Regions from separate parts of the Homo sapiens genome. Here regions 1, 3 and 4 are each reported to be linked to region 2. The links are microRNA targets in miRTarBase. Many come from high-throughput screens and were not tested one by one. Region 2 holds a microRNA gene; each other region holds the end of a gene's coding sequence.

Region 1 (7,115 bases), not on the chromosome of region 2:
CAGGTTAGTGATGGGGATTTATTAAAGCATTCACAGGGAAATAAGGAAGACAAGAACAGCTACACAGGCAGCCTCATGGAAGAACAGAAACTTGAAAATGGTTCATGATCCAAAGCAGCTCTAGAGCCTGGCTTATCTTGTCACCCCCTCAGCTGCAGGCATCTGTTGCTCCCTTCTCTAGTGCTTCCCAAATTGGTGACTCAACTCCTTTCTGGCTGTATTTATACTCCTCCTACTGCTACTGACTAACTTCTTTCTGCCCCCCTCGATGCTAGCCCATGGCTTTTTCTGCCTCATGGGTCCTGCAGCTTCATGGCTCCCGGCGCTTCAGTTCCTATTAATCCATGGCTTTTCTGCATTGTAGCTCCTGCTGCCTCTTCCATTCCTGTTGCCATGTTGCCACATGGTTCTGGCTACCTTGTGGTTCTTGCAGTCTCATCGCTTCTACTGTCTCATGATCTTATCTATTCAAGCCTTCTGCTGCTTTGTGGATCTCATAGTCAGTTTTGTCTCACGGTTTCTGTTCCTCGTGGCTCCTATTGCTTCATGGCTTCTAGCCCATTGTTGCCTTGCTGCTTCATGGCTTCTGCCACCCTGTGGCTCCGTGATCTCATTATACAAATGTCTCATGACCTCTGCTTACTTATGGTTTCTGCAGCTTTCTCTTTGCTTTTGCTGTTTAGTTTCTGGCCACCCCTCATCCACCACCACTAATGCCTCATTAAATTCTAATTAACGTTCACTTCTTCTGAATAGCTCACATTCTGCCTCCCTGAAAGATCTGGTTGTTTCATACATTTGCCATTTGATACATGCCACCCCTGTAAGGTGAAGTCCTTATGCCAGTCCAGCTAACAGGCCACTGGCCAGCCTAGAGATTGGTTGCCCTTGAACCAGACACTATCCACATCTAGCTATCTGTGGCCAGGATTGTGAGGTCACATGGTACAGAGCATGGCAACTTATGCTAAGGAAACCCCTTAGAAGGGACTGCAAGCATGGCAGGTTTGCTAAGGGTTTCCAGAAGGGGGCAGTGTAATTGGCAACCATCTTGTTTGACCTGTCCAATACATTGACCTTCAAGGTTCAACCTAAGTCCCACCTTCTCCCTGACCACCTCTGCCTGTCCTGATCTACAATGGGATAGATCAAGATCAAGACTCCAGAGATGACATAGAAAGGAAACCTAGCTTCCATTTCTGGCTCCAACACTTCCTAGCAGTCGGACCTTAGGAAGTTAATTCCCCTCTGAGGACCTCAGAAGGGGTTTGGGCAGTCTTCCCTTACAAGTCTGACATTCTGGGTATCTCACTATAAGTTATTGTATAAGAGATGTGACTCTTACCTGGGAAAGCCCTCAAAAACATCTCTTGAGGTAGGAAAGAGGGAGTCAGAGTCCTGGCTTGGAAGAGCCTTACTGCACACTGGAGGTGCTTAGCCAAGATTTATTGAACTGGATGAATGAATCAATGGCTTGTGGAGGGGTGGGGAGTGGGGGGGCAGTGAGAGACCACACAGCACACAGAATGTCTAACTAACTTGAGGAATTCCAGTTGCTGAGGAGGATGTAAGCAGATTGTTTCAGAGATGGATAAGGAAAGAGATGACTGGGACAGGGTAGGAATCATGGCTATTCATGGGTACTCATTCTATCCTCTCAGTCACCCTCCACATCCAATAATCAGTCATTAAGTTATCATCTTACCTTAACAGTTCACACCTTAACACCTCCAATCTATTCCTACTGGCCTTTGCCCTAGTGCAGGCCTCCTGGTCTTTTTCCAGTCTCCTAGCTAATCTTGTCATCTCCATTCGCTCTCTCACAAATGGATTCACTCATGCATTCATTCATTCAAAAACTTTACTGGGTGCCTGTTTTGTGTCAGGCACTGTGCTTTTTTGCAGGGGCTATACTGGTAAGCAAAATATCCCCAGGCCCACCCTTGTGGTGCCTAAAGCTTATTCAGAGACAAAATAAGCAAATATAGTAGTGTAAGAAGCTGATTAACAGGGAAGCTACAGGCACGGGCACATACAGCATGAACATCTAACCTAATCTGTTTTCCATGCTGGTTGGCTAGCCAGCCAGAAACAGGTTAAGTTCACATCTGATCTGGAGTCCCCCTATTAAAAACCATTTCATGGCTCCCTCACTGCCTTCAAGCTATGGTTTCCAAATCTGGCTGTACCCTAGTCATGTGGTAACCTTTATAAGCATTCAAGATTCCAAATCTTCACCCCAGACTTAATGAATGTTTTAGGGGCCGGGGCCCAGAATGCCGTACCTGTTTGTGGTATACAGCCAGTTTGGGAACCACACTGTCCTACAAAACAAATCTGAATTCTGTAGCCATGCATTTACGACCCTCTTCCAATCTGGTTCCTCTCTACCTTTTCTTGCTGCTTTCCCCCCACCCCAGGAATCTTCATGCTTCAGTATTTGTTTTGCTGTTTCTTGCCTTCATGTCTTCATGCATACTGTTTCCAATATCTGGAAATTCCTTCTACTTCCTCAACTGGCTAATTCCTACCCGTCCCTCAAGACTCAGTTCAGGTATCACCACCTAGACTACAGGATGCCTTCTCTGAATCTTCACATAAGCTAGATGTTTTTCCTGTGCTCCTGTCAGTGTTGATCACACTGTATGGTTAATGGCTGTTTTACAAATGGTTTCCCCAACTAAACAGTGAGCTCCTCAAAGGCAGGATAAAGATTTGACTCATCTTTGTGTTCCTGGTGCACAACACTGTGATTTCCAGAGGGAAGTGCCCAGTTAAACTTAAGATACTGTTGTGGAGTACTCTTCAACTCCCTACAGCAAGGCTACTGCGTCCACAGTATAAGGGAGTCAAACTAGTTCCTCCAACAAGCCCTAGGGAATCTACTCGGATCCAGCTTGCTCTTGGAAACACTGTGGTGCCCAGCCTCCCGTGAGCATAGCCTTGACAACGGTTGCCCTGTGATGCCAGGAGGTGGTGGGGCACGACAGGAGAGAGCAGGGGGCAAGCACTAAATAGATCCGAGTGGAAGTCTAGGCTCTGCCACTAAACCAGTGGAATCTTGGACAAGTCACCTCACCTCCTGGATCCTCAGGACTTAAGTCCCCAAAGCTCCTTTGTAGCACATGTGTTCCTGTGTGCCAGGGCCTTAGCCTAAGGCATCTCATGTAATCCTTTTTATCCTGTGAGGTAGGGGTTAGTTATCTGGGTTATTATCCATGCTGGCTGAATCAGATTTCCAGAGGTGGGACCAGAGCAATTTATTTTTAAAGAGCTCCACATCCTTTGGATGTGGGGGTGCAAGCAGGGAACTGCTGCTTCTCATTATAAGCCCTTCTGTACTATTTTATTTTTTTACCTGTGTATATATTGCTTTACTTTTTAAAAAGGAAAAAGAAAAAGCTTTACAAACGATTCTGATGCGCAGCCAAGGTTGATAACCACCTGTACAGTGGAGAAAGCACTTGAATGACTTGGAAGACCTGGGTTCAAACCTTTTTGGGCCTCAGTTTCCTTATCTGTAAAGTGGGGAGAACAGCAAAGGTGACCTTTAAAGGGCTGTGAATGATCTAGATGCCAGCCAAATTGCTTCATATATATTTAATTTTCTCTTTGCTTCACTACTGCAAGGTAGGTGTTTATTATCTCCTTTTACAGATGTGGAAACTTAGGCTCAGAGGTGAAGTAACTTGCACAAGTTTCTACAGCTAGAATTTGAACCAGGTCTGACCCCCGAATTGTGCTCGTCCATAAAGGCCAGCATTTGCCAAATTATGGCACACAGTACCACCAGTGGTACGTGACTTCTTTGGTTGAAAACAGACAAATTTATTTTGTTTTGATAGTTATGTCTTTTAATATGTATTAGAAGAATACATAATTAGCACACATCAAACCTGTGATTTCACAGATATCACTACTTGGGATGAAAATGATATAGGATAACAATGTTAGACCTCAGATCAACCTCAAGAAAAATACTGAGTAAATAGTACAGGAGGGCAATTTGGAAGTATTATTAAAAACCAATATATAAATATCCTATGACTTTGCAATTCCACTTCTAGGAATCAACCCTAGGTAAACTTTCATACATATACTTTCACACAGGCATAGTGATGCTCCTGTGTAGTATTTTGTAATAGCAAAACCTAAAAACAGTCTTAATGTCCATCACAAAAGAAATGCGTAAGTAAAATGTGGTAATCATATGATGACAATCTATACAGCAATTACAGAAGATGGATTGAGCTACATTAAGTAACATGCACAGATCTCAAAAACATCGTTAAGCAAAGAAAACAAATTGCTAAACAATTCAATATATCATTTGCATTAAACACACAATATTTCCAATGAGTTCACATATGTACGTACAAGCATTAAAACAAAGTCTAAACGGAAGTACAACAAACAACAGCCACTAAGAAGGGAAGGATCAAGGAGTGGTTGGTAGCTGAATGAGACTATCTTTAACAATCTAACTTCTCAAAAGGAGAATGAATTCATGCATATTTGGGTAATTAGAATGGACTTAACTTTTAAAAAGCAATATACAGATTGGAATTAAAGTGTGATGGTGTATGTGAATGAGTAAAGGCTGAGCTCATCGCACCCGGCTTTGCTGCCTCTGCATGATCCTTATAGCTAATGAGGTTAGTTCCTAAAATGAACCTCACAGGTGTTAGGCTGGGATGTGGCCCAGGATACCTCTCCCCTATTTCCTCACAACCCAGATTGGGGCTCAGGCACCCGGTTACCAGACATGATTGAAGCTACAGGTTTCCTCAGGCCCTCCGCTTACCAGGTAGACCCCATCAGTGCCCTGAAACTTTCCCAGTCAGCAGGGCATTCAGCACCTTCCAGATTTGGAGGCTTCTTCTGTCCCTAATAGCTGGGATCAGAAGCTCTCAGGGGTCCAGGCATGAGGGTTATATTCTGAGGGGTCGGCACCTAGTGGGCTCCACGAAGGGATAAGGCCTCCAGTGAGGAGCTTGACATCATTAAATCCTATGAGGTAGGTAATATTGTTAGCCCCATTTTACAGATGAGGAAACTGAGGCACAGAAGGTCAAATGACTTGCCCAAGGTCAAACAACTAGTAAGTGATAAAAAGTGGGACCAGAACCCATAACTGTCTGTCCCCAGAGCTCATGCTCCACTCCTAGTGCCTGACCAAATCCTACCAATTTGTCAAGGTCTAGCTTAAATGTGACCTCCAGGAAGCCTAGAGGGGATCACCCACTTCTCAAATTCAAAGTACATATGACATTCAGCTAACTATAGTCATTCATGAACCCACTGTATCTCCTTACTAGGAGGGTAGAGATCATGTCTGATTCAACTCTGTATTCCAAGCACAGAGCCTGACAAATAGAGGGTGTTCGGTATGTGTCTGATGAATACATAAATGAATGAATACACAAATGAGTGAATGAAGGCAGTTTCAGGTAACTGCCTAAGACTCCTATGAGGTCCTGAGTACCTTTGCCCAGCTCAGGGGTGCTGTCATCCTAAGCTCTCTTGGAATCAAATTCAGCCTAGGCTCCTTCTAAAACAGGTCTCCAATATCCTTTATTATTTTGCAAACATACTCACATGCACACATGCGGATACATACATACACACATACATACCCACACACACAGTGGGCAAGAGGCCCAAGGGGCCCACGATTATGGGTGATGAGGGGGAGGAAGGGGGTGTGTGTGATGAACAGATGGCCCTGTTCAGCTCAGCACCTCCTTTCAGAGGCCAGAATACTCCCTGTCGTTCAGGAATTTTTGCTCCAGACCTAACATCACCTCTGTTCCTCTTCATGCTTGATTAGCAGTGCCTAAATCCCATGACTACACCAAAAAGGGCCAGGAGGTAGGGGGAAGGTTGGGAGTCAAATATCCAGAGATTGGGAGAGGGACAGCTTAGGGATCCAGACAGGGCGGGAGGGCAAAAATACTGCTACTGCTCATTGGGGTTGGGGTTGGCATCTGGGTACTTGGTGAGGTCGAAGGTCAGGACTTTGCTGATCACACAGTCCCCTTGCTGAAGGAGGAGGGAGAAAAAGAAAAATAAAATTGTAAGGAGAGAATTAAGAGGGGTCTAGTGCCCCAGGACCAGGGGCCTCAAACCCTCCTCCCTACATACCTGCCCAAAGCCCAGTCAATGGTTCTCTCTGGGTGTGAGAGGATATGCTCAGTCCCATGTGCCTTCGCTCCTTGCCTACTTCTGTACTCTCCTCCTTTCTCCACTGTCTGGCTGCCTCTGCCTGCCTTTCCACCTGTCCCCAAATGCAATGGCCCTGCCTGGCTGGGCTGGCTAAGCCTCCAGAGGCAGGGCTCCAACAAGCCCAAATGGCCATTCAGGACCTGATTCCCTATGCTCCCCCACCTCCTTTCCCCTCCACTGCAGCCTTCCTTTCCTGCCCTGGGAAATCAGGCAGGGAGTAGGACTGGCTCCTGAGCCAGGCCCGCCCTACCTCAGGATAGACTCCAATGAGGCTCTCGGCCTTGGTGTAGAACTCCTCCTTGAGAGAGATGACGATGGCCTGGAAGTTGCAAGTCGACTGCTCCTTGATGTAATTTGCCACCTGTGGGAAAGGCCGCCAGGCACTTAGCAAGGCTCAAACCTTAACAGTCCCCAGTATTTTCCAGCCACAACCAGAAGGCAGAAGAGGTAGGGTAGGGAGAGGAAGGTGGGGAAAAGAGAGGTTGAGAGGAGACTACTGACTACCACAGCATGGATGACTCTGGGCCCAGCCTCCCAGGCACAGAGAGCAGGCAGCAGGAACGGCTAGGGCACGCTCAGGAGTTGCTCCCTGAAACCCAACCCCGACCTGGGGGCATCCCTCCCAGGCCCCACTTTCTTTGCACCCACCTTGCCAATGTTGGTGTTATCCAAGGCAGCATCAATCTCATCCAGGACGAAGAAGGGGGCTGGCTTGTAGCTGGGAGGGAACCAGTAGGTGAGCTGACACTGAGGCGGGGAGGGGGTGGCAAGGCGGGGTGGGACAGCCCCAGGGCCCATCAAACAGGCCAGCTTCCCACTCCACTTCTTCAGAAACTAAAAAACCCAGGTCTCAAAGTTGCCTGAGCCCCTGAAAGCCAAGACATCAACAA
Region 2 (7,115 bases):
CAGAGTGCACCTGTTTAAATGTTTACCTCATTCAAAAAACACCAAACACAGAAACATCCACAGCCATGTTTGACCAAATATCTGGGCACTGGGACCCAACTAAGTTGACACATGAAATTAACCATCACATACTTAGTTAGAAATAAGGGTGATTATGATGGGGAGTTCGAGGGTGTGACTGACCTCCAGGAGATCTGAGAGGGCCAGGGACCTTGGCATCCTCCAGGAGACCCAGAATGAGCCTGCAACAATATTTAATTGCATTTCAGCTCATTGAAAACTGGCTCAAAGAGAACAAAATGATGGCAAAGGGTGTTTCATCGTCTGAGGTGTGTGCATATCATTTTACCATTTTGTCATGTTATGGGGTTGGGGGGAGGTGTGTAAACCTGCCCTTGCTGGCAAATGGAAGTTCAAAGACAGTGGGCATAATTTTCTTGCCTTGGAGATCAAGGAATTATGTGTTGAGTGTATGGAGTCACAAGATGGAAGCTCCCAGAGTCTTCTGTCTATGCAAGTGAGGAAGCAATTGTTGCTGTATTAAGCCACTGAGATTTCAAGACATAGCCTATTTTGTTATGACTCAGACACTGTGCAAGCTGTGTGTGCATGAATGTGCCTGTGTGTGCATGCATGTGTGTGTGCATGGTGGTGCATGTGAGAGTGTTCCTGTATGTGCATGCATGTGTGTGTGCATGGTGCATGCAAGTGTGAGAGTGTGCCTGTGTGTGCATGGTGTGTGCACGTGTGAGAGTGTGCCTGTATGTGCGTGCATGTGTGTGTGCATGGTGCGTGCACGTGTGAGAGTGTGCCTGTGTGTGCGTGCATGTGTGTTTGCATGGTGCATGCATGTGTAAGAATGTGTCTGTGTGTGCGTGTGCATGTGTGCATGCATGGTGCATGCATGTGTGAGTGTGCCTGCATGTGCATGCGTGTGTGTGCACATGGTGCGTACATGAGTGTCTGTGTGTGTGTGTGCATGTGTGTGCATGGTGCGTGCACGTGTGTATGTGTGCATGCGTGTGTGCATGGTGCGTGCATGTGTGAGTGTGTGTGTGCGTGCTTGTGTGTGCATGATGCGTGCATGTGTGTGTCTGTGCGTGCATGTGTGTGCATGGTGCATGCATGTGTGTGTGTGCATGCATGTGTGCATGGTGCATGCAGGTGTGTGTCTGTGTGTGCATGCATGCGTGCATGGTGCATGCATGTGTGTCTGTGTGTGCGTGCATGTGTGTGTGTGCATGGTGCATGCATGTGTGTGCATGCCCGTGTGCACATGCGAGTGTCCGTGTGTACATGTATCTGATTATGGAAAGTCTACCTGAAAACCTGTGCGCTAGAGCTTAGCCAGAACCACTTCATACAATGATTCTAATGCTAGGGAAAAACCCATTTGCTGTCATTTTGGTTCTCTTTGAGCCAGTTTAATGAGCTGAAATATAATGAAGTTTTGTTATGGGCTTATCTGGGGTCTCCTGGAGGGTGCCAAGGGTCCTTTCTTACTCTGGGCTCCCTGGAGTTCAGTCACACCAACTGAGGAGCCCATCCTCTCTGGCTCTAGCGTGCCTGGGTCCCTTCTTTGGGGAATTCTCTTCCTAATCCATTTGTCCGTGGGACTGGCAGTTACCTCTCCCTGGTATTGTGTTGAGTTCATAACAGGCTGAGGAAATAGCACCAGAGCACCCATAGCACTCACTCTCGGAGGGCATTTGACCACCACTGGGAGGTCACTGGAGCAGCTCCCTGGACTTTTCCCTGGAGTTGGATGGGAAGGCGAGCTTACTCTCATGATTTGACCTACCAGCTTCTAGGGTAGGGCTGTCAGAAGCAACTTTTACCACCTGAACATTGTTTCATTGTAGTGAGGAACAATGAGACTGACCTGAAAAGCAGAATGGAGATGGCAGAGACATGAGGTGGCAAGGGATGGAGGGGGCATCCTGAGGACAGTGCTTTAGTCTCTGGGCTCAGCTCTTGGGACACTCACCTTGGTCGTCCCACTTAGGCGAGCTTCAGTTAGTCAATGTTGGGTTTCTGTCACTTGCCAGGAGCCTTGGCATTTAAGGCAGAATTTGTTTACTCTTAAATTAAGCAGCTCTACAAGTTTCATTTCATTTCATTGCTCATGATTTTCATCCCAGTTTCACTTCATTGCTCTGCTCTCTCAGGATGAGTCGTTGGCAGGGGAGAACTCTCCTTTCTGTAGTGGAATGAGTCAGTGTGGTGCCTGGATTGGCCCAACCGAGTGTGGGAGCAGATGCTCTCACTTGGACTGTACATCATCTTGAGTAGGTCAGTCAGCCTCCTGTGCCTCAGTTTCTCTATGTCCACAATGAGAATGTTAGCACCTTTCTCCTAGGTTCATCGTGTTGACTAGCTGGGCTAGTGTTCTAAAGCCCTTCAAACAGTTCCAGACACACAGTCAGTTCTGCTTCATTAGTAGCTGCTATCATTATGGTTTCCACGACAACATGCCATCTGACCCTATTTATGCCATCCTCCCTGGCCTGGGAGCCAAGGTCACGGTAGAACACCTGATGAGTCATGCCTAAGTTTTTGGCATCTTTAACCAAGACAGAGATCAGTAATCAAAAGTAAAAGTATTCAGTAAAACAGATGAATCCACATACCATTTTTGAATGTTGAAATATGTTCATCAGAACAACTTTAAAGGTAAATTGGGTCGAGAGCATGATTTAGTACAAAGGTCAGTAAAGTATGGCCCATGGGTCAAATCCAGCTGTCACCTGTTTTTATAGAACCCATGAGCTAAGAATCATTCTTACACTGTTAAATGGTTGAAAAAAAAAATCAAAAGAATGTTAACATTTTGTGACATGTGAAAATTATGTGAAATTGACATGTGCATATGCATGAAGTGTATTAGAACACAGCTGCCCCCTCTGCTTGCATCTCGTCTCTTGCTGCTTTTGGGCTACGATGGCAGAGCTGGGTTGAATTGTGGCCCACGGTGCAGAAAATATTTACTTTCCGCCCCTTTTACAGAAATGTTTGTTAACCACAATTTAACTCTTTTTAGCTTAATTCTTAATTTTCCTTTGTCCCTCTAAAATTTCAGACTTTCAGGAATTGAGGGGTAAACTTGAAACACGGGTTTGTAAGTGAGGACACTACAGCGCTGGCTTCATATAAGACATACAGGCAAACTCATGATCCTCACTCATTTCATTTCAGATGAAAACTGCTTTCCAGTGACAATCAGAAGGGGAAAGGTTGAACTGTCATTTTTCTGAGAAAAATAACATGGAATAAAAGGGCCTACATTCTCTTTCCTACATTCTCATCATTCTACAGTTATTTGGGGTTTTTATCTCTCCCACTTGATGTATATATTCATAAAACCTCAGGAAGAAACATGATCAAAAGTAAAACTGAAAGGAAAAAAACATAAAAATGTTCCTTGGTTTTGTTATGTTTTCGTCAAACTCAACGTTTAGTGAGTTGTTTTTATTTTCCTTTCCAATTGTATTTATAGGCTTCGCTCTTCTCCCTGATTTTTTTTTTTTTTTGCCTTTTTGCAAAACATTCCCTGGAGGAACAGCATGAATCAAGACAAGCTCTTTATCTTCTGCTGATTTATATAAAAATAGACAGCATGCATGGGCTTTTGCATGCTGTTTCATGAAATGCTCTTGTTTTTATCATTGTAAACTTCTGGGGCTCTGAAAAAATGATAAGGAAACGAGTCCTATCATCACCTCCCGAGAGTCAGCATTTGTTTCAGTTTCTCCATGTGATCTGTGATGCAGAGGTCTGGCTCTCCTGTGGGTGGGGCTTAGAGAAGAACCTCTGTGATACACAGGAGTGAAACGTTACTTAGCAGATGCAGCCTCACGTTTCCGTGATACTGTAATCATCTAACACCAGGAGAATCCCATAGAACATTGACATCAACACTAGGGGGTTTGCCCTTGTGGGGAAGAATCTAAGGTAACATCATGAGGACTCTAATAAATGCAATGGTGTTTAATTATGGTTTAGGGCTCTGACATGATGCAGAGCCCATTATGGACAAGTCTCTGGCTGAAAGTCCCTGCAAGAGGGATGGATTCTCAGAAAGCAATTTGTCATCATCGTTTTGCCCTTGGAAGTGAAACCCAAGAGCAACTGGGATTCCCCCGGTGCTCTCCTGGAGCGTCTTGGCCCCATTCTGTTCTCTTCCAGCATCTTTCATCTCCCATCTTCCCTCCTTCAGGGGCTCATTTTCAGAATTTTCCATTGAAATCCCTCACGTTTGTCACTTGAAGGAGTAACCTTCATTTATATGTAACATTCAATTAAGTAAACACTCATTGCATAAAAGAGGCTTTACTGTGTGCACAGATTTGATTAGGAGCAATTACGACTTTGTGTCATTCATATGAATAAGCTAACTTAAGCCGAAATGTTAACAGGAGGGAATGACTTCCCCATCTCCCTCCTCCTCCATAAACATTTCCCATTTAGTGAGGATTCCATCATCCCAGACAGAAGCAGCCCAGACAAAACAGAGGCGACATATCTCCACACTGCAGTCTCAAGGCTGGTAGAGGAGGACAGAAACTGGAGAAAGAAGGCCAAGAGCAGCAGCTGAGCTCAGAGAAAACCCAATACCTGCAGAGAGATGCCTTTCTGTGGAGAAAAGAGAAAGTCATAACCAGAAATACACTCAGGGAACAATGCTCAATCCTTGGTTTCCAAAGGGTGAGAGCAGCTCAGGCAGGATCCGCAGGCTCCAAAGCTGGGGTTATACAGGTGGAGGGTGTGGCCTCAAGAGGCAGCCTCAGCCGGGGGCACCCTGGTAGGATGGGCATGGTGGGGAGGGCCTGGGGTCAGAGCTGGTTCAGTCTGGGTATGGATATGACCAAGTGGCCAGTGGGAAAAGCCGCCAAAAGCATTCACAGTGGGAACACATGATCCTAAGAGCATAGCAATTCCAGGCTCACCGACTAGCAGGCTTGGAGCTGCAGGTCTTCTGCCTGCCCCATCGATTATGTCCAGGGCCTCCAAAGATGGATGGGGGTGCCAGCAGCCCCGAGTTCCATTCTGGGCATCACACTTTAAATGTGGTAAAAACGAATTCACAACAAAGGCTTAGATCAAGGAGGCCGACGGAACAAGATGCTACTCCTTCCCCTCTCTCATCCCCAACTTCCTAGAAAAGACAAAGAGAAAACACCTTCAAAATCAGAGCAAGTCCATTAGAGGCCTATGATGTGAGAAAGAAATCACTTCAATGATGAGATCTGTGGGTTGTTTGTGACATCAGCCTGTGTTAGTTACCCTAATAAGAACTTAGTGACTGGAAACAAGGTATTTGATTTTTTAAAAAATAATAAAACCTAAACTACATAGTATTATTCTAGCAGCTGGGTGTCAGGAGGTAAGACAAATGATATTTAAGACTGGAAAATTGGATCAACACTTTCTTGCAGCAAAATATTTAGTGAAACTTTTGCCTTTTATTTCTTGGAGCATAGGTCACACGCCAGAGGCTTTTGTCATTCTGGAGAAGAGCAGAGGTTAGTAGCATGCGCTGTGAAAGCTCCACTTGGAAAACCATCACAAGAAAGAGATGCATTCAGAAAGGGAGGGCCAGAGTGCAGTCAGCAATGTTAAGGAAGAGAGTCCAGAAATTCTCCACTCGGCACGGTTGCAGTGGAAAGAACCGGCATGCTAAGGCATTACTGAGATGAAAGTGGCCCAGCTTACAGCAACTTGTCCATCAGCAAGAAATACAGGTGTTAAAGCACTGAAACTTTAAGACTGTTACGCCACTCACATGAATTACACTGACTCAATTTTCTATATATGTACTAGTCACAGCAAGTAGAAAGTGCAATAGGGGAAAAAAGATCCCAGTCACAGTAACGAGAGGAACAGAAAGCCTAGACATGCAGCTGACAAGAAATGTGCAAGATCTGTATCCAAACACCTGTGGAGGTTCCCAAGGTTCCCAAACTTGATCTGCATATTCGATGCAATCCTGACCAAAATTACAACAGTATGTTTTTAGAACCTGACACACTGATTCCCACATTCATCTGGCAGAGTAAATAAATGCAAAAAAAAAAAAACTAATAAATTCTGATTTAAAACACACAATTAAGGGAAATAGGCCAGATATCAAAACATATTGTCTTGTTATAGAAATTTACATAATGTGTTTATGGAGGAAAGGACAAATCAATAGAACTAAACAGAAAATCTAGACATATCACTAAGGTGGCATTTTTTAATCAGTGTGGAAAAATGCTTTCCTCCATGTATTCAATGGTTTTCAAGTAACTGGCCATCCATTAAGGAGAAATATAAAATTAGATATACCATGGCCAAAAGTAAATTCTAAATGATTTTGAAAGAATGGAAGAAAATATCAAAATAGCTTCATAATCTTATAATGGGGAAGGATTCTCTGAGCTAGAATTTTGTAAATATAGAATATTTTGTAAATATAGAATTTTGTAAATTCTAGCTCACAAAATTCAGAAGTCAAAGGAAACACTACATGAACATTTAAAACATGCCTGTGACCAAAGAACACCATAAAAAAAGGGAAAATTAGAAAAATAAGAGAAAATATTTGCAACATATACCATAGGCTAAAGATTGATATTCAGGGTATATGTTTAAGAATCGCCAACTACTCAAGAAGATGAAAACAACCCAAGAGGGAAACGAGTAACATGATGAACCAGTGAAAAAGAATGAATTCTGATAGTATGTTCTGACATGTTAAGGTTTTGAAGATTGTTAGAAAAATCATGAAGGGAACATGTAAAGTAGAATCCTGTTTACATTTTACAGTTGTGTGTGTGAGTGTGTATGGATGTGTTCATGTGTCTGTGTGTGTGAGGGCATTAGTAAGTGCGTGTGAGTGTGCGTGTAAGTACATGTGAAGGCACAGAAAAGGATCTAGAGAGATACAGGCATGATTGTTAATAGTGGCTCCTTCTAGGGAGGAAACTGTCAGGGGTCACTTAAAGGAGTAAATGGCATTTATGGTTTATTCTAAAGTCCCTATATTATTTTTAATTGCATAGAGAATTGTTGCATGCATATGTACATATTTTAATAGATTTTATTTTTTAGAACAGTTCTAGGTTCACAGCACA
Region 3 (7,115 bases), not on the chromosome of region 2:
CCACCCCCGCCCACGGCTGGTCTCCCTTCACCGGACCCAGCTCTCTGATGGATTCTCTTTGCGCAAATCTGTGCGTCATCGCCCCCCACCCCCGGAACCTCTAGCTGTCCAAGCCCCCAGCCCCAACCTCTCTGGCAGGAGATACGGTCGAAGGGGCTGGTGGCAGAGAGGGGCTATCTCTGACGTTGCAGGTCCCCCTCCCATCGCGTTCAAACCTTCCCTTTAAGCGGTGGAGAGAGCTGGAGTTGAGTCACCCCCCCCCCACCTGCGCAACCCCCTCCCCACCTGCTCTGGTCTCGCCCTCCAAACGTCCTTGGGGGAGGGGAGCGGCAGGAGGGAAAGCGACTGGGGGAGTGTGGGAAGAGATGGGCCGAAGGGGGCACAGCGGGGGGCCTTGACACAAGCGGCAGTCAGGGGACAGAAGGACAGACACACCTTTTTCTCCAGACACAGCACGGATCGTGAAACAGACACGACCCAGAGGCACACACATCCTCATTCTTTCCCTTTTCTCTTCCGACTCGGACCCTTCCCGATGGGATTACCAAAACCGCAAGATCCACCCATCTGCCCCTGTCAGGGGGCTGCCACCCGCACTGCCGATTCGCGGACAGCGCCCGCAGGCGTGCAGATCTGTCCCTCTGCACTCAGGTTCACGCCGTCCTTGGGCGCGTGGTCTCGGGGTGGGGAACCCGGCCCCCTGGTCGGCTCTTGAATCTTTATCCTTCCCCTCCCCAGTATTGAGCTCCCACTGGTGCCCAGTCAGACGCTGGGACTACCCTTTTTCTATTCCACTCAGCAACGCGGGCTCCATCCAGCAGCTCCAAGTTGCTCTGCAACCCACCCTCCCGCCTTCCAGCGCCTCTGCATCCACCCTTCCATTCATTCTCCCATTCATTCATTCATCCTTTTCTCCTCGTCCCTCCTTCATTCATTCATAGCCCCCCGCCCTGCCCGCTTCAGCATTTCATTCATTCATTCATTCATTCATTTCCCGGAGCTCCGCTAGCGCACACCCCTTCAGCCGAAGGCCCCAGCGCGCAGGCGCAGGCCGGGAGAGGCAGGCACCCTCCAATCGTCGGGCGTCCTTCCTCCTCCGGGCGGCCGCCCGCTTCCCCATGAATGAACATTGACGTCAATGGGGCGGGGCGCGCCCACGTGACCCCGCGCGCTCCCCTTTATAAGGCGGTGGAGGCGCGGGCGCTGTCCAGCGTGCTGAAGCCGGAGCGAGCTAGCCGCCCGGAGCCGCGCCGACCCAGCTGAGCCCAGCCCACGGGACGCCAGACCTCGACCGTCGCTCCTACCCCGGCCACCGCTCGGAGCCGAGGCGGACGCGTCCCGATCTTCCCCTGTCCCCACCCTGCCCCGACCCTCCTCTCCACCTCTCGCGTCGTGACACCAGCTGGTAAATACTCCGCTGTTCGTCCCTCAAACCCTCGGCAGCCAGCCGTGGGCGTGAGGGAGGGTTCTCTCTCCTCTCGATGGGGGTGTTGCAAACACAGCGGGGAGCCCCCTGGTAAGGGTCCCCGGTAAACGGGGGAGTCGCAGCTTTTTCTCTTGCTGCTGAAGTCGCCCACGCACCATCCGGGGAGTCCTACGGGGAGGGAGCAGAGATTTTTTTTTCCCCCATATTGCTGCTGCTTAGTACGTGGGCGATGGCAGTGAGATGGCTCAGGGAAGGGGCCGAGGAGGCCCTGGGTAAGCGAGGGCTTCGGGGGTTATTTTCCCATTTACACGGCTCCAGAGATCGGCACAACATCTTCCTCCTTTGCTCCTAAACGTTCCTCTTCTGGGTAAGGTTTGGGGGATCAGGGAAGCCCCGGGTTTCCTGCTGAAAGGTGGGGGAAGGGAACGTAGACCTAGAGAGGGGAATTCTTACAGAAATCCTCTTTTTTTGGTCCCTTCTATTTTTCAGTCTCCGGCAGCCTCTTGGTCATGAAAGCCCTCAGATTGTCGGCTTCCGCCCTCTTCTGCCTTCTGCTGATCAACGGGTTAGGGGCAGCACCCCCTGGTCGCCCTGAGGCGCAGCCTCCTCCTCTCAGCTCTGAGCATAAAGAGCCGGTAGCCGGGGACGCAGTGCCCGGGCCAAAGGATGGCAGCGCCCCAGAGGTCCGAGGCGCTCGGAATTCCGAGCCGCAGGACGAGGGAGAGCTTTTCCAGGGCGTGGATCCCCGGGCGCTGGCCGCGGTGCTGCTGCAGGCACTCGACCGTCCCGCCTCACCCCCGGCACCAAGCGGCTCCCAGCAGGGGCCGGAGGAAGAAGCAGCTGAAGCTCTGCTGACCGAGACCGTGCGCAGCCAGACCCACAGCCTCCCGGCGCCGGAGAGCCCGGAGCCCGCGGCTCCGCCTCGCCCTCAGACTCCGGAGAATGGGCCCGAGGCGAGCGATCCCTCCGAGGAGCTCGAGGCGCTAGCGTCCCTGCTCCAGGAACTGCGAGATTTCAGTCCAAGTAGCGCCAAGCGCCAGCAGGAGACGGCGGCAGCAGAGACGGAAACCCGCACGCACACGCTGACCCGAGTGAATCTGGAGAGCCCGGGGCCAGAGCGCGTATGGCGCGCTTCCTGGGGAGAGTTCCAGGCGCGTGTCCCGGAGCGCGCGCCCCTGCCGCCCCCGGCCCCCTCTCAATTCCAGGCGCGTATGCCCGACAGCGGGCCCCTTCCCGAAACCCACAAGTTCGGGGAAGGAGTGTCCTCCCCCAAAACACACCTAGGCGAGGCATTGGCACCCCTGTCCAAGGCGTACCAAGGCGTGGCCGCCCCGTTCCCCAAGGCGCGCCGGCCGGAGAGCGCACTCCTGGGCGGCTCCGAGGCGGGCGAGCGCCTTCTCCAGCAAGGGCTGGCGCAGGTGGAGGCCGGGCGGCGGCAGGCGGAGGCCACGCGGCAGGCCGCGGCGCAGGAAGAGCGGCTGGCCGACCTCGCCTCGGACCTGCTGCTCCAGTATTTGCTGCAGGGCGGGGCCCGGCAGCGCGGCCTCGGGGGTCGGGGGCTGCAGGAGGCGGCGGAGGAGCGAGAGAGTGCAAGGGAGGAGGAGGAGGCGGAGCAGGAGAGACGCGGCGGGGAGGAGAGGGTGGGGGAAGAGGATGAGGAGGCGGCCGAGGCGGAGGCAGAGGCGGAGGAGGCGGAGAGGGCGCGGCAGAACGCGCTCCTGTTCGCGGAGGAGGAGGACGGGGAAGCCGGCGCCGAGGACAAGCGCTCCCAGGAGGAGACGCCGGGCCACCGGCGGAAGGAGGCCGAGGGGACAGAGGAGGGCGGGGAGGAGGAGGACGACGAGGAGATGGATCCGCAGACGATCGACAGCCTCATTGAGCTGTCCACCAAACTCCACCTGCCAGCGGACGACGTGGTCAGCATCATCGAGGAGGTGGAGGAGAAGCGGAAGCGGAAGAAGAACGCCCCTCCCGAGCCCGTGCCGCCCCCCCGTGCCGCCCCCGCCCCCACCCACGTCCGCTCCCCGCAGCCCCCGCCCCCCGCCCCCGCTCCCGCACGAGACGAGCTGCCGGACTGGAACGAGGTGCTCCCGCCCTGGGATCGGGAGGAGGACGAGGTGTACCCGCCAGGGCCGTACCACCCTTTCCCCAACTACATCCGGCCGCGGACACTGCAGCCGCCCTCGGCCTTGCGCCGCCGCCACTACCACCACGCCTTGCCGCCTTCGCGCCACTATCCCGGCCGGGAGGCCCAGGCGCGGCGCGCGCAGGAGGAGGCGGAGGCGGAGGAGCGCCGGCTGCAGGAGCAGGAGGAGCTGGAGAATTACATCGAGCACGTGCTGCTCCGGCGCCCGTGACTGCCCTTCCCGGTCCCGCCCCCGCGCGCCCCCGCCGCGCGCGCGCGCCGGCGCCCCCCTCCGTGTTGCCCGCTCCCCCTCGGTGTTTGCATGCGCCCCGGCCCTGCCCCTTGGCCCTGCCCCTGTCCCCGGGCTGCGTCGGGACCTGCCAGACCCCCCTCCCGGGTCCTGAGCCCGAACTCCCAGAGCTCACCCGCGGGTGACCGGGGGCCAGCCCAGGAGGGCGGGTGGTTTGTGCGAGTTCCCTTGCCACGCGGGGCCCCGGCCCCATCAAGTCCCTCTGGGGACGTCCCCGTCGGAAACCGGAAAAAGCAGTTCCAGTTAATTGTGTGAAGTGTGTCTGTCTCCAGCCCTTCGGGCCTCCCACGAGCCCCTCCAGCCTCTCCAAGTCGCTGTGAATTGACCCCTTCTTTCCTTTCTCTGTTGTAAATACCCCTCACGGAGGAAATAGTTTTGCTAAGAAATAAAAGTGACTATTTTATTAGGACTTTGTTCTCGGTTATTCACCCGTCCCCTTGGGCCTGTGTGGTCCTTCCCAAGGGGCGGTGAGGGAAGCGCCAGCCACAGTCCCCGTCTCCTCCTGCTTCCTGCCCCCAAACTAAGGCAAGGGGTAAGTGGGGAAAGTCCTCAAACTGTTTTTAGAGGAGAAGAATGTGGCTCGCACCCATTAAGAAACCCGAAATTCCACTTCCAGCTTGGGGGCTGGTGGTAAAGTCATCTTTCCCCAGGGCTTGACAGAGAGAGGCCCAGCGGAATGCAATAAAAGAGCCAATTGTCTGCGATCAGTCCAGCGACCTCTGGTTCAAAAGAAAAAGGCGACCCGCAGAAGGTGCCACAACTCTGGGTGCCAGTGGGCTCCTTTTTCCCAAGATCCTGGGGCCGCGCGGGTAATGCCGGAGTTTCCTGTGTTCACCCACCCACCTCCCTCCACTGATCCCTACATTCCTGGTCCTAGGTACTTTGCAAGAAATGCGGGGAGGAGGGAGTGGCAGCCACAGAGACATGCTGGCTAAAGCCACTTCTTAACTTTTTTTTTTTTTTTTTTTTTGAGACAGGGTCTCACTATGTTGCCCAGGCTGGAGTGCAGTGGTGCAATCACAGCTCACTGCAACCTCGACTTCCTGGGCTCAAGTGATCCTCCTACCCCAACCTCCTGAGTAGCTGGGACTACAAGTGTGCACCATTATGCCCAGCTAATGTTTGCATTTTTTGTAGGGATGAGGTTTTGCCAGCTTGCTCAGCTGGTCTGGAACTCCTGGGCTCAAGCGACCTCCCCACCTTGGCCTCCCATCTTAAGCCTTTTCTAATCGCAGGTACTTGTGAACTGATTCAAATAAAACTAAACTGGGCAAACGAAATCACCCACAACAGACCCGCATCCTGAAGAGTTGCTCCTCCTTCCATAAAGGCAGCTCAGGGAGTTGGGGGCAGCCCGTTTGGAGACGCATTGGGCATAAAAATCCGTTTAAGGTAGGGTGGCCAGATAAAATACAGGAAATGAAATCTGAAATTCCAGATACACAACAGATGCAGTTTTAGAGTTAAATGTGTCCCAAACACTGCATGCAACACATTTATCCCTAAAATGATTTGTTGTGTATCTGGAATTCTCATTTAACTGCGTGCTCTCCGTTTCTTCCCAAGGCTGGCAGGATCCCCTTGGCCTCCCGATGATGCCAGCAGCCCTGCCTTCCTTCACAGAGCCCAAGGCCAGCAAAGTCCAGAAATGCTTTTACTTTTATTTCAGAAGAAAGGACATAAAGGCAGACACTTCCCCCTCCCCCTCCCCACCCCTCCCAGCTCCTGCCTCACCCAGAACTGGAGTGAAAGGCCAGGGCCAGGACCAGGGTCCCATAAAGCTTGCCCTTCCCCCAACCCTTCCTTCCCTCAAAGTGGCAAGGTTAGAAAAAAATTAACTATGTTGTTCCTCCCTGGCACTGGATAAAGGCCCCACTGCAGCCAAGGAGAAAGAGGGGGGTCCAGGCTCCCCTCCCAGGCAGAGAAGCTGCCTGGCTGGCTAGGGGGAGGGTGGAGGTAGGTTATGGGACAGAGAGGACAAGAAGTGCCCTGAACACCTTTTCCCTTTAACCTGACATATTTATATATTTACAGTTATTAGGGAGGGAAGGACATCTGGGGTGACATCAGTTCTGCAAAGGCAGGGAATAAAAGCCAAATAGCACCCCCATCTGGGTCACATTTTCCTGCCTCCTAGCTTCTAAAACCTTCAGTGGGAAAAGGGGAAAGTGGAGGTAGGGGGTGGAGGGAGGGAATGTTTGAAGGGCCTGAGCCCACAGCTCACTCCGAAAGGTGAGGCAGCAGAGGAGGGGCAGCCGAGTCCCACCAAGAACAGGGCCCTGGGCAGAGGAGAAGCAGCCGTTCCCGCCACGCTGCCAGGACCCCATCGCCACACCCCGGCCCAGCAGGGGCTATGCCAAACCCATCTCCTCCAGCACACTCCGTGGCGACTCATCCTCCTAAGGCAGAGACAGACAGAGGGTGACGCAGAGACACCAGGAGAGGCCGACAGGGTGGGCAAGACAGCAGTCACGAGGAAGAGTCAGACGGGGGAGGCACAGACACGGGGGAGGGGGAGAGAAGCCAATGTGAGCCCAAGGCCGGACCAGTGAGCCCTTCATGGGGCACCCACCAGCCTCCCAGGGCCAGCCCCAGAGCCAGCCAACAGTGGCAGGGGGGGTCCAGGTTGAGTCCGTCACCACCCAGAGAACCCAAAGCCAGGACCTTGGTAAGCAGGGGCCCCGCCTTGACACCTGGGGGTAAAGGGAGTGAAGCCGGGACAAGGAGGTGGGGGATCTTTCTGGGGCCCTGGGGGGTACAGCTGACTGGGTCCTGTTTTTCAGAGTGGGGAAAAGGCAGAGGGAGGTGAGTGCCAGGTCCCTGAGGGAAGGTGAACCAGGCTGCAGGGAGATGCGTCATTAGGGTCTGAGCGCAACACTGGTGACACGATGGGTGTGTGTGCCAGGGCATGTGTGTGTGTGTGTGTGTGTGCGCGCCAGGGTGTGTGTGTGTGCGTGTGTGGGAAGGTGAAGCTCGACCAGTGAGGTGGCAAGTTCAGTTCTGCCCTCTCTCCCACTGCAAAGATGAGCCCTCCCTCGCCCCCCATCTCTCCCCCTCCTCAGAGCCAGCTCAGGCCGGGCTCGCTCATCACTGCAGATTCCGGTGACTCATCTCCCTGCACCAGGGCTCGGTGATGGCACAGCAGAGAGGGGGCAGGCAGTAATGGGGTGAGGGCGGGGGCGCTGGGGAGCAGGGAGAACCAACATCCAGGTGCCCTCTGCCAGCCCCCAAATCCCCATAGCCTTTTCCTCCTG
Region 4 (7,115 bases), not on the chromosome of region 2:
TGGCCTATCCAGATGTCAGCAGGAGGCTCCATAGTCATGTGCAGCTAAGGGCTCTGCTGCGCTTTGCTTAGGTCTGTGACAGCTCCAGACACTTGAGGTCATTGTGTATTTGTGCCTTTCTCCACTGGGCACTTTTGCTTGGGAGGAGCATGTGATACAGGCAGCCTTCATTTGACTTAGGTTGGAAACACTTCCTTTTATCTGCCTTTGATTTGACCCCAGCAGTTTGGCCTACAGGGCTCATTTCTCTGGCCATGTGATTCCTTTTCTCTTTGTATCAGGTTCAACGCCCTCTAGATCGCCTGTTCTCCTCTATTGTCACCGTTGCTGAACAAAAGTATCAGTCTACCTTGTGGTAAGTTTCCTTATCATAGGAGAGGAGGCTTGGGGTGGGGCGGAGAGTGGGCATTCTGCCCACACATCCAGCATTGTCCTAGGAGGGTTGGGTAGATGGTATATGTGGGCAGTGGCATCCCTGGATGGTGACCCCTTACTCAGTCTTGTCAGAATCTGCCAAGGATGTGTAGAGTCAGGCCTCATAGCCCTGCACCCTGCCCCTCACCTTATTGCCCTCTGTCTGCTCAGGGACAAGTCCAAGAAACTGGCGGAGCAGGCTGCAGCCATCGTCTGTCTGCGGAGCCAGGGCCTCCCTGAGGGTCGGCTGGGTGAGGAGAGCCCTTCCTTGCACAAGCGAAAGAGGGAGGCTCCTGACCAAGACCCTGGGGGCCCCAGAGCTCAGGAGCTAGCACAACCTGGGGATCTGTGCAAGAAGCCCTTTGTGGCCTTGGGAAGTGGTGAAGAAAGCCCCCTGGAAGGCTGGTGACTACTCTTCCTGCCTTAGTCACCCCTCCATGGGCCTGGTGCTAAGGTGGCTGTGGATGCCACAGCATGAACCAGATGCCGTTGAACAGTTTGCTGGTCTTGCCTGGCAGAAGTTAGATGTCCTGGCAGGGGCCATCAGCCTAGAGCATGGACCAGGGGCCGCCCAGGGGTGGATCCTGGCCCCTTTGGTGGATCTGAGTGACAGGGTCAAGTTCTCTTTGAAAACAGGAGCTTTTCAGGTGGTAACTCCCCAACCTGACATTGGTACTGTGCAATAAAGACACCCCCTACCCTCACCCACGGCTGGCTGCTTCAGCCTTGGGCATCTTCATAAATGGGCTTGTGTCCTGGCATGATTCTACTCCCACCCTCTGTGCAGAGCTTGAGCTTTCCAAAGTGGATCTCCTGCCCATCTCTGTGGGTCTGGTAGAGGTGGGGAATGGGGTATCACTGGACTTGGGCCAAGTTAGGAAGGCCCAAGAAGCCCATTCTACTGATGGTACACCTGACACACTGGGCATCAATTGTATGTCCTGATGAGAGGTGATATGGAATCTGGAAGAAAGACTAGGGTAACTGGTGCTGCAGTAAGGGACTAGTCCAGTGGGGTGGGGAGTGTTGGTCTGATCCCCAGAGTCTCCAAGCCTGACAGCTGCCTGGAGTCTCAGACCTGATGAGGTGCCTGCTTTGGACAGTGGGGCACTGGAGGCGGCTGATGACAGCAATTTGGGGCCCTTATGTTTGGCAGATCACACCACACAGTCCCTCCCGTCCCCCGCCTTCCTCATCCCACTTGGGGCGGAAGGAAGTGGCAGATTCTCTTTAATTTCCTCCTGGCAGTGAGAAGCAAACAAACGGCTACCGCATCTCATGGGGCCTCCCCCGCTTACTGGGAGGGGCGTTCTGACCAAAGGTCCCTGCCCTGTCCTGCCCCCGCTTCCTCAGCTGTAAACATGCTGCTTCTCCTCCCTTTTTCCAGGCTCCATTGGGGAGTGGGGAGGGGAGGAGTCCCCTCTGGGTCAAAGCTGTATTTCCCACATCTCCCCTGTGTCAGAGCTTTACTGTTTTGTGGCAACTTTAACACAGGGTCAGGCACCTGTGCCAGCCAGCAGCCTCTGGCCCTGCTGGCCTCTGAGTCTAGGGTTTGGTGGGTGAGGCCTCTGTCTCAGTTCCAGCACCGCCCCCCTCCCCCCTGCCACCCACGCTTGCTTTTCTGTGTGCAGATAAGGATACCGCACTACCCACTGCCTCCCAGAGCTCATTGCTGTTTGACCTTGGGCAACTCACTTCTAGTCCTCTCTGTCCTGAGGGCCCTCCTCTTAGAGGGGATCCGCTGTCCTCTGCCTGTGTGAGGCTGGCTGGAGGACAGTAGGCTGGCCCTTTGATAGGACTCTGCATGGTTAATGGGGTCATTCCATGCCAGGCTGCCCTAACTGACTTCCCAGACCAGTGCTCCCCGAGAAAGGGCTCCACTCAGGAGAAAGACTGAGGCTTGGTCCAGTCTCAGCCACCAAGCTTTAGGCACAATTTATTTCTGATTTTTCTTCTTTTTTTTTTTCATAGAGATAGAGTCTTGCTATGTTGGCCAGGTTGATCTTGAATGCTTGGCCTCAAGCAGTCCTCCCGCCTCACCCTCCCAAAGTGCTGGGATTACAGGCATGAGCTACTGCGCCTGGCCTATTTCTGATTTTTCGTACTAAAAACAATCTCAATCAAAATGCCTCCTTTGGCTGGGTATGGTGGCTCACACCTGTAATCCCAGCACTTTGGGAGGCCGAGGTGGGTAGATCACTTGAGCTTGGGAGTTCAAGACCAGCCTGCTGGGCAATGTGCCAAAACCCTGTCTACAAAAAAATATAAAAATTAGCCAGGTGTGGCCGGGTGCGGTGCCTTACGCCTGTAATCCCAGCACTTTGGGAGGCCGAGATGGGCGGATCACGAGGTCAGGAGATCAAGACCATCCTGGCTAACATGGTGAAACCCTGTCTCTACTAAAATTACAAAAAATTAGCTGGGCCTGTTGGCGGGCACCTGTAATCCCAGCTACTTGGGAGACTGAGGCAGGAGAATGGCATGAACCCGGGAGGCGGAGCTTGCAGTGAGCCAAGATCATGCCACTGCACTCCAGCCTGGGCGACAAAGTGAGACTCTGTCTCGAAAAAAAAAAAAAATTAGCCGGGTGTGGTGGCACGTGCCTATAGTCCTAGCTACTCAGGAGGCTGAGGTGGGTGGATCACTTGAGCCCAGGAGGTTGAAGCTGCAGTGAGCCATGATGGCACTACTGTGTTTCAGCCTGGGCAACAGAGCAAGACCCTGTCTCAAAAAAACAACAACAAAAAACAAAAATGCCCCCTTTGCCTTTTCTTATACTCCAACTGGAACTGGTCAGACAGAGGCTGCAGTGCTGCCCGCCCCCACCAAGTCACTGAGTCCTAAGACCTACCTCCCCAGTGGAACTGGGCTTTGATCTCAGGCCACTTCTCCCACCAGTATGGTTTCCCTGGGGGAAGCCCCTCCTCTGGCAGGGTCAGGTTCATTTCTGGGCTCTGGGGAAGGAGAGGCAGGGATTCAGGTCTGCTATTAAGATAGAGGCTGTAATGTGGGGGCTTTGAGGGCCCTGGGAAGCACTGGGGAGAGAATCCTTTACAGGGGAGGAAGGTGGGGTGGGTCTACTATATATTCTGTGACTGAGGATGTCTGGCAGAGATCCTGGTTGGATATGTTAATCCTCAAATGATCTCACTTTAGCATACCTCAGTGTTGCCTTTCCTGGTCTCAAAGTGACCTGCCCAAGGATGGGACTGACTGGGGGGTGGAGGGGGACAGTCAGGCCTGAAAGCTCTGCCCATTGTTCTCACCATGTCCACCTTAAACTGGGCCACTTAGACTCCCAAACCTCTCCCTGGGCTAGTAGCCACAACACTTATCCATCCATTCCAGCCAGCCTGATTGAGGATTTCCCCTTAGATCATCACATTTGGGGGACAAATGGTTTTGATATGAGCATGAGAGGAAGGGATGAGTAAGGCTGGAGAGGGTGGCAGGTCTCTCAAAGGCCACAGCAAGAAGACTGGGCTGTGTGCAAAGAATCTCTTCCACCCTCAGTTCTGGATACTTGGGTCCTTCCAGTTTACTCTGCTCAGAACTCTTCCATGGGTCTCTTAAGTCTGCTCTCTGGACCAAGTCCAAACTCCTCAGCCTGGCATTTGAGGACAAAGTGCTGACCCTGTCTTCTCAGCACCCTGTGCTGACTTCAGCAACTAACTTTCTGAGATTGTAGTTGGCTGGTCTTATCCTCTCCTCCCAGATTGGGAGCTGCTCAAGGGCAGTCCTTGTGTCCCCTGTGGCTACCTTGGCATGGGTCTGGGGAGCAGGCACAGAAGAATCAAACCAGAGCTTGGGATGAGGGGGATGTTTGGCATGGAGAGGAAGAACTTTTCTAAACTCTGAATTTCCTCAGAGGCTCCTGTTTTGCCTAATGGGGAACAAGGGACTGGGGCAGGCTAAACTGTACCATCCCATGGCTCAGAGGGCACTGAAGAACTTCAACAATGGGTGCTTGGGAACAGTCCTGTGGCAGCTGATGATAATGATGGCTTTCCCTAATTCCCAGTCTTGGGTGGCATTCATACAGGAGAGAGTGGTTGTACAGTGACCCACATAGCCCTTGTCCACCCTGGGGTTCCACCTACTGCACTGGTCCTGTGGGCCTCCTGGTTTCACAGGGCTCTCAGAGGGCTGAAGGTGGGTCCAGATGACCTGCAGGAGCTTTGGAACTGCCTGAAGAAGAGCTCATGGGGGTACATACTGGCCCTAGCTGGGGCAAAGGGCTGAAAGAGTATGTACATATCGGTGTATGTGTGTGGTCAGGCCCCTTCACAGGCTGCAGAGTTCCCAGCCGTTGCTGACTTTCTTACACACATGGTGACTCTCTTCCTGCAGTTGGTGCCCATCCCTGTCCCAGCCCTCACCATTCCTTGGTGAGATCAGAAACCCTCCCTACAATGTAATCTGTTCTAAGTGTTCTCCAGGTGCTCAGTGGCTGGGAAGACAGATGCATAGCTGAGCATTTGATGAGTGGTTGAATTTTTCAAGCCATCTACAGCTTCTCTGTGGTCCCTTCCCAGTGGAGGGGCTGACCAGCCCAGGGTCTCCCTCCTGCCTGCTGTCTGGTCTGACTATGGCTGATCCCATGATTTAGGTGAAGTCATGTCTGGAGGGACTTCAGATGAGCTGGCCAAGCCTCTGGGACCTTATACTGTATCAGGATCCTGTTACATGTGGTACAAATAGGTGGGCCAGCAACCTGCCTGAGGCAGAGGGCTCTAGAGCTGATGTGGCATTTGGGCCCCAAGTTCCACACTCAGGCCCTCAAGGTTGGAGATTTGCAGGCAGGACAGGTTATTGGGAAGGATAGTCCACCCGTCTAATGCCAGTTGTTCCCTCTCCTTGACCACATTATCTTCTCCCTCTGACTTCATTCACCCCTGTCCCAGTTGAATCTAGTGATCCATCCAGAATTCTGACCATGTAAATCCCCTGCTCTAAGTCCTTCCACTGCTCCCTACTGCCGTCAGGATAAAGTCCAGACACTTTGCAGTGGCCTGCAGCATTCTGCCCACTCATCCGGCCCCACCTTAGGCTTCTGCCCACTGCAGGTTACTTTATGGTTATCAAGTCTTTGGAAATCTGTTCTCTGCCTGGAATGAAACTTGCTCACTTCTTGTCTGTCACTCCGGTTCCTACTAACCCCTGTCAAGGCCCTGCAGCTAGCAGGCTTATGAACTGTCTCTGAGCTCCTGGCACAACCCTCATCTCTTTGTACAGTAATTATAGATTTGCTGGTCCCCTCTCCCCTACCCCTGAAGGGAGACTTTATCTCTGAATCCCCAGGAACAGCACAGGTACCGGTACAAAACACTGGGCAGAAATGAAGCAATACAAGATGAACGTCTTGGATGCCCTGGACATTCCCTGTCTTCCTGACCCAAGGTCTAGTTTGGCTCCCTCTAGGGCTCCCTGGTAGCTCAAGTGTCAGTCCAGACATTGAGACCTCGGCAAAGAGCTTCCCTTTACCCTCTCTTCCCACTGGCCTTTGTGGGCGGTGTGGAATGTGCTGTAGGCCTTGCGAGAGCGGCATTTCTTTTTTTTTTTTCTCTCTTTTTTTTTAACCTATTGTAGCCTCTGAGAGGGCAGCATTTTTGGGCGCACCTGCACCCAAGCCTCTGACAGTGCCCTGGGTTCCTCCAGCAACGCGCATCTAGGGATGCTATGCCCTGTGGGCCCTATGCCCGGGGCACGGAGCTAGGGGAGGCGGTCACCCTACTTCTCTCACGTCCCTGTCCACCTTGCGCCTCAGCGGAGCCTTAGGTAAACAAGCCAGGCTCCCAGTCCCCAAGGACGGCCTTCACCCCAGACCCCAGGAGGAGGCGTCTTGGGCCATCTCGGGAAGGCTAGCTTGCTCGGGAGGGGCAGATCACGAAAACGGTTCTTTAGGCAGTGTCACTTCCTCTCCACTGCCAGCCACCCAATTTAGGCGGCTCCATCCCTCCCGCTTTCATGGATATGCAGCAGGATGCAGAGAGCACAGAGCTGTGATTGGCACGAGCTCACAACGGGCTTTCCCGCTCAATCTACTCAACTTCCAGCAAGGGACAGGCCCTGCCCATTGGGGTTCGCTGAGGCCTCAAACGCGCATGCTGTCAAGGGAGCAGCTGCGGGGGCCCGCTAGTGGGGACAAAGGCGCAGCCACCGGGGCGAAAGCTCCGCCCCGCAGAGGGTGGGCCTGCGGCGACCGCGAGCTCAGAGTCCGGACTTGTCGCGCAATCTGTCTCCTTCGGTTCCACCCCAACCTAGCTGGACTCTCGGTCCGGTCCCTGCCCTCTGGAGACTCAGCCATTAAAGTTGAGGTGGGGGGATGAGGATGTGGGCGGCGTCCAGGTAACTCTGAGGGGCCCTGATGCCTTCCCTAGAGCCAGCCATCAGGAGTAACACGATGCGCCCCCACATCACCGAACCCAGAACCTCAGTGCTTCAGCACCCCTTCCTCGACATGAGCTCCGCCCAATGAGGAGAAGGGTCTTCTGCATTGGCCGGTGGTGGTCCCCTATCCAATTAGAGAGGCTAACGGCCTTCTCTCGTCTGGTTTAGAAGGAATCGCCGGGGGAATACAGGCCAAACTACAATTCCCGAGAGGTAGCTGGGCTCTGCGGGGGGGGGGGGGGGGGCGCCTGCGTGTTCACGTGACTTCCTTCCTTCTCGCGGAGACCGAGTTACGCGATAGGCCTGTGAGG

The links. Region 2 holds the annotated microRNA hsa-miR-4278 (CUAGGGGGUUUGCCCUUG, at 3,918-3,935, shown strand). A microRNA usually pairs through its seed, bases 2 to 8, with sites in the 3' UTR of a target mRNA and lowers its output. Matches are read on the target gene's strand: a 7mer-m8 pairs with bases 2 to 8, a 7mer-A1 pairs with bases 2 to 7 and ends in A, and an 8mer does both.
Region 1: miRTarBase lists SMC1A as a target of hsa-miR-4278. Seed matches in the 3' UTR shown: 7mer-m8 at 5,873-5,879 and 7mer-A1 at 2,258-2,264.
Region 3: the mRNA of AP1S1 is a reported target of hsa-miR-4278. Seed matches in the 3' UTR shown: 7mer-m8 at 6,037-6,043 and 7mer-m8 at 5,802-5,808.
Region 4: the mRNA of DUS2 is a reported target of hsa-miR-4278. Seed matches in the 3' UTR shown: 7mer-m8 at 1,106-1,112.

The regions. Positions count from the first base shown.
Region 1 is chrX:53,374,145-53,381,259 of GRCh38, forward strand. It overlaps SMC1A (structural maintenance of chromosomes 1A), which reads right to left. Exons shown (of 25, transcript NM_006306.4): 23 at 6,874-6,943; 24 at 6,476-6,586; 25 at 5-6,042. The coding sequence ends at 5,959. Among named protein-coding and RNA genes, the nearest start is that of MIR6857, 28 kb to the right of the region's middle.
Region 2 is chr5:6,824,683-6,831,797 of GRCh38, reverse strand. It overlaps MIR4278 (microRNA 4278), which reads left to right and starts at 3,877; the gene lies at 3,877-3,945. LINC02236 (long intergenic non-protein coding RNA 2236) reads right to left here. Exons shown (of 2, transcript NR_146281.1): 2 at 5,070-5,155. LOC105374641 (a long non-coding RNA gene) reads right to left here and starts at 2,035. Exons shown (of 3, transcript XR_925740.3): 1 at 1,988-2,035. RefSeq lists enhancers at 969-1,470, 3,668-3,817.
Region 3 is chr7:101,159,664-101,166,778 of GRCh38, reverse strand. It overlaps AP1S1 (adaptor related protein complex 1 subunit sigma 1), which reads right to left. Exons shown (of 5, transcript NM_001283.5): 5 at 5,503-6,260. The coding sequence ends at 6,213. It overlaps VGF (VGF nerve growth factor inducible), which reads left to right and starts at 1,210. Exons shown (of 2, transcript NM_003378.4): 1 at 1,210-1,405; 2 at 1,916-4,270. The coding sequence starts at 1,936. The coding sequence ends at 3,783. RefSeq lists silencers at 1,180-1,279, 3,042-3,181, 3,342-3,391, 3,952-4,041.
Region 4 is chr16:68,078,164-68,085,278 of GRCh38, forward strand. DUS2 (dihydrouridine synthase 2) reads left to right here. Exons shown (of 17, transcript NM_017803.5): 16 at 282-355; 17 at 586-1,157. The coding sequence ends at 823. Among named protein-coding and RNA genes, the nearest start is that of NFATC3, 3.6 kb to the right of the region's middle. RefSeq lists an enhancer at 6,684-6,763 and a silencer at 7,044-7,115.